Linked DNA regions of Homo sapiens: region 2 is linked to region 1. A link means that fine-mapping ties the variant in region 1 to the expression of a gene that starts in the linked region. Tissue or cell type: lung. Region 1 holds a variant in brackets; the other region holds the start of a gene. All regions are shown on one strand. Distances are from middle to middle.

Region 1 (2,759 bases):
TCAGCCAATGAGGACCAAGCCCATCCAAAGCAAACAGTTCCCATAACTGTTTACAGTAGAACAAACTTCTTCCTTTAGACAGGACGAATGTGGAAAATCACCCAGCTAGACATTGCTTGTTATTTTAACACTTTTGAAATTCAGAGAGGAGAGAGATCTAGCCCTCTAGTCAAAAGATCTAACTCTCTTCAAGAGGGAAGTGCGCAAATTTGGAAGCCCATCAAGTATCCTATCAGAGGCTATAAAGATTTCACTGTTTCTGTAACAGCCCCTTTTTATATAATCACTTAAACTGTGATTATGTTTAATATCTCTACCTAAATAGCACCTCCTGGCCCGGCTTTGAAATTCTCCTTGCTTTTCTGTGATACTACCCAGAGGAATTTCATAATTTGCCTGTGTTCCTCTGGCTTGGCATTGGCAAAACCAGCAAGACCATGGTGAGTTGCCTCCTATTCATTGGTTTCCACTGCTGGATTATCCTAGTTTTATTAGTTATAAATAAAGACTATTACGTTATTGCTGAAATATTCTGAGACAACCAGTAATGTATGCTAAATTATTTAAGAAAACATTTGTGGCTGGGCACGGTGGCTCACGCCTGTAATCCCAACACTTTGGGAGGCTGAAGCGGGCAGATCACGAGGTCAGGAGATTGAGACCATCCTGGCCAAGATGGTGACTCCCCGTCTCTACTAAAAATACAAAAATTAGCTGGGTGTGGTGGCACGTGCCTGTAATCTCAGCTAGTCAGGAGGCTGAGGCAGGAGAATTGCTTGAACCAGGGAGTCGGAGGTTGCAGTAAGCCCAGATCGCGCCACTGCACTCCAGCCTGGTGACAGAGCGAGACTCCGTCTCAAAAAAAAGCGAAAGAAAAGAAAAAGAAAAAAGAAAATATTTGCAAGTATTCACAGACCGAAGTCTGAAATGTGGTGAGCCAAAACAAGACATCTGGATGATATGCAAGTTAGTTGACAGTTTTATGAACCACAGGGTAGGGTCAGGTTAAGGACTATGGCATACGCCAGTACATGAATGATTTGAATGAAGCTACATGGATTTGAACTGTTGTTGTTGTTTTCTAGTTTCCCAAGTATCAGGAATCCCTGA[T/C]GCAACCTTGACTGAGCCTTTACTATTTTAAATTCTGAAATGACTAGCCCAATTAAAATAATTGACAGTATTAAATGTATTGGGAATAGCAAAACAATATTCAATACTTATTTATAATTCAATTCAATTTATAATTTCTGGACCTGTTCCAGAATTGAAAAAGACAGTATACAAAGAGAAAAATTACCCACTTCAATCTCCATGTTGCTACATTATTAAAAGGGAGTGGGTTGGGGGGATGGGGCGGGCAGCATGAAACAGCAATCTTTAAGAGGGTTTTACTTATTCAGGTTTAAAATAAGGTAGGCATTCATTCAGATGCCTTACAGGGGTTAATTCATGATTACTTGAGATCCTGACAGCTAACGATCCAGGAAAAAGGAAGGATCATGGGAACCCCTGGCTTTACCCTTCTGTGTGTTCAGCTAAGAATGAGAAGGCCCTTTGGCATCATGTGCCTTTCTTTGCCCCGAAAAGCTGAGAGTAGACATCAGCTCTGCTGTCAGATTGGCTAATGAATGTGCTGGCATGCGCCAGTGGCAGCTGCACGTGCTTCCAGAAAACTCTCCTCCCCACAAATCAGCCTTTGTATTCCTAATCCTGGGAATCAGGGTGCCATGCATGGAACTACAGCCGCTGCTATATCAGTCTAGGAAATAAACAGCACTAACTCCAGGCCACAGAGCTGTCAATCTGTTTATAATTCCAAAAAGCCCTAAAAATGCTAATATATACCTTTTTAGATGTCTTTTACATAAGGATTGGTTGAAATGTAAAAAATGTACTTTACTCAGATGTTGCTGCTCTATTCTTTTTAAAGTAAAGAAGATAAATTGTAAAGAGCCTTGGCTATTTTTTTTAAATAGAATTTTTAGTTTCTTTTTGTTGTTGTGTTTTTATTTGTTTGTTTGTTTGAGACAGAGTCTCACTCTTTTGCCCAGGCTGGAGTGAACTGGCACGATCTTGGCTCACTGCAACCTCCGCCCCAGGGGTTCAAGTGATTCTCCTGCCTGAGCCTCCCGAGTAGCCGAGATTATAGGCATCCACCACCATGCCTGGCTAATTTTTGTATTTTCAGTAGAGACAGGATTTCGCCATGTTGGCCAGGATGGTCTCAAACTCCTGACCTCAGGTGATCCACCTGCCTCAGCCTCCCAAAATGCTGGGATCACAGGCATGAGCCACCACACCCAGCCTGGGAATTTTTAGTTTCAAACAGAGGGGAAGCATTAAAAAAAAAAGTTTACATAAATGCTAGATTATTTACCATTACAAACAGAATTGCAGGCATATGCAATGAGTAGTTAATACTCTAATGTCTATTATTGGCATGCTTTTATTTTGTTTTGTTAAAACAGTCCATACTTGTCTCTATTCACTATTGAAGGAAATAAAAATATTTCACCCCAGAATATATTTATTTGACATACTTTGTGATGGCTCTTCAGAGGGCCTGCAAAGAGAAGTAGCCCTGGAAAGCTGTCTATTGTCAGGAAAATATGCATCTGGAAGCTATACATTGCTGCAGCCAGGCTTTCTCTGAGACTTTCCCTTGGCTGGATCTAGGAAAGATTAACTGGAAGTCTGACACCTTCAAAGGTCTGAAGGAATCATTTACCTTCTATTCTCTCTGAGGGCTGCTACCCGGC
Region 2 (2,500 bases), 950 kb after region 1:
CCAAATCTGCCACTGCTAATGCATTCAGTACCCCAGATCTGAAACTGTTTTGTGAACAGAAATACTTAGCAGCAGCAGATATGGGCTATGCCAACATTAACCTTGTCCCTAAAACAAAGTGACAAACCACTCCTAGCCTCACCCTCAAGGGAGGGTAAGCAGTAACGACTCCTCCAGGAGTAAGGCCAGGAAGCCAGGTTTATCATTAACACTCATCAGCTCAAGCCCAAGGTTTAGCCGCTGCACCTCCACCACCAGGGAGCCGTGCGGGGCGGGCAGAGGGGTGAATGAGGCGGGCGGGCGGGCGGGGCGTAGGGTAGGCCCGGGAAAGGCGGGGCCGCACTGCCGGGTCCCCCACCGCCCGGCACCGCCCCCAGCCCCGCCCCCAGCCACCCGGGCTCCGCGGCAGCTCTGCAGTCCCCGCGCGATTGCAGCGCGCGCCCGGGACCCCTTCCCGCAGCCGCCTCCCCCTTGCTGCGCGACCCCCAGCACTTACCTGCTTTGCAAACCGGGGCGCTGGGGCTCCTCTTCTCCGGCGAGCTTCGGCTCTGCTCCGGAGACCTCCTCCGATGCCGGACGCGGGCTGGGGGTGGGGCCGCGCTCACCTCGCCGGTCCACAGGTGGGTGGGCGACGAGCTGGGCGACGACACGGTGCCCAGCAGCGGCGGCGGCGGCGGCGGCCGTGGGGGGCTCCCGCGAGCTCCAGGCGCGGCGCTGCGCGTGGGGCTGGTGCCTCGCGTGGACGTCGCGGACGCGCCCGTCTGCGTGGCCACCGTGGGGCTGGTGCGCGCGGCCGCGTTCCCGCCGCCGCGCGTGGGGCTGGTGCTGCGCGAGGCGGTGCGCGGGCCACCGCCGCCGCCGCCGCCTGCGGGGCCTGAGGCGCCACCACAGCAGCCACCGTTGTTGTTGCCGCCGCCGCCGCCGCCGCTCCGCGTGGGGCTGCCATGTTGCTGCTGCTGCTGCTGCTTCAGCTGGAACGGAACCGTCGCCCTCATGGGCTGCAAGCGGCTCCCGGGTCCCCCGGCCGTGGCCACCGCACCACCCCCAAGGGAGCCGGCCGGCGTGGGGGACCCATTGCGCCTCACCCGCTGGGACATGGTCCCCCCCCTCCCCGGTGACTGGGCGAGACGGGGGGTTTTGTTGTTGTTGGGCTGCAGGGGGAGGATTCTCGAGGCCGGAGGGCAGGCCCCCCAAGACGGGGTGACGAAGCCGGACTCCGGGGTGCAGGGGGAGACCGGGCCGGGGCAGGCAGCAACGAGGTGGTGCAGCCGCCGCCGCCGCCGCCGCCGCTCCTCATCAACAATAGTGTCTCCTCTGCTGCCCCCGCCCCCCACGATCGCCCATTGGTGCAGCGTCAGCCGCGCTCGAGCCGCTCCACTGCTCCCATTGGCTACGAGCAGCTCGGGTCCCGGGCCCCCGAGGCCTTGAGAGCCTGGGTGTGCGCGGAGACCGTCTGCTCTTTAAAGAGAAAGAGACCCGCCCCCCGCGGGGAGGGAGCGGAGGAAATGGGCCCTGTGTGTATGTGTAGTGTGCGCGCGTGTGTGTGTACACGTGAGTGCCCGTGTACGCGCGCGCCTAGCCACGCGCGCCTTTCCTTTCCCGCCGGGGGGAGCCCTGGGGACTCAGACTCTGGAAGGTTGCCAAAGGAAATGTCCAGACCCGGAGCAGTTCCCAGGGATGGTCTGAAGCCTTTTCCGCATAACTCATTTCCTTACCCCAGTGTTCACTTGTGTTCACCTGTACGCGCATCTCGTTCGGGCTTTTATTCTTAATGTTTTTGTTCTGCCCTAATTCCATCTACCTATGGGCAGGGCTCAAAAGGAGAAGAAATTTAACTAATCTTACTGGCATTTTACGCCCCTCTCCTTTTATTTTTTAGAGCTCTACAAAGAGGCAAATCTCAGAAAGATTAAACTTGCCTGTTAGAATGCGATTTTAGATAGTATCTATAGAGTTCAGTTACCACATGTTATTCCTACCCTCCTGTATCTCAAGTAATCAAGACTATTTTAATCAGCTGCTTCGCTGTTCCCTGATACCTTGGAAGGATGGCTGCTACCTTACCAGTTTGTAAAGTGCTATAGTTTACAGAGGGCCTTATTTGATTCTACACGATCATTGTTTGAGACAGAACTGGGACAGCCATCCATATTTTTGTCTAGCGGAGGAAACAAGTCTTTGGTGTGGCAAAGACTCGGGAAGGCAGGCAGTGACACTATTTCTAAAATGACCTAAAGGGCTCCTCATCAAGAAAATAAAAAATGGTGGAGCCAAAACCTACACTCCCACCTGTCTGGCTATAAATTGCCTATCCATGACCTCTTTTCCCTCTACTATTTTTATTAGTTGTACATGCTAGACAGATTTCGTCGTGTAAAAATGTGGGAGTGGAGGGCATAGTATGATTCACTCTGGACCTGAAATCCTACTGGGTCCCTTTGCGCGGTGGTGGAAGGCCTTTTTTTTTTTTTTTTGAGAAGAAGTCTCTCTCTGTCACCTA

What was found. PIP is the estimated chance that this variant, and not a neighbour inherited with it, causes the effect.
Region 2: it holds the start of FAM117B, and the variant in region 1 is fine-mapped to the expression of FAM117B in lung (TOPMed, PIP above 0.99).

What each region holds. Positions count from the first base shown.
Region 1 is chr2:203,579,927-203,582,685 of GRCh38, reverse strand. No RefSeq gene overlaps it. Among named protein-coding and RNA genes, the nearest start is that of RAPH1, 46 kb to the right of the region's middle. The variant T/C (reference allele first, on the strand shown) is at 1,111.
Region 2 is chr2:202,633,785-202,636,284 of GRCh38, reverse strand. FAM117B (family with sequence similarity 117 member B) reads right to left here and starts at 1,316. Exons shown (of 8, transcript NM_173511.4): 1 at 497-1,316. The coding sequence starts at 1,097. RefSeq lists silencers at 269-708, 809-858, 1,049-1,278.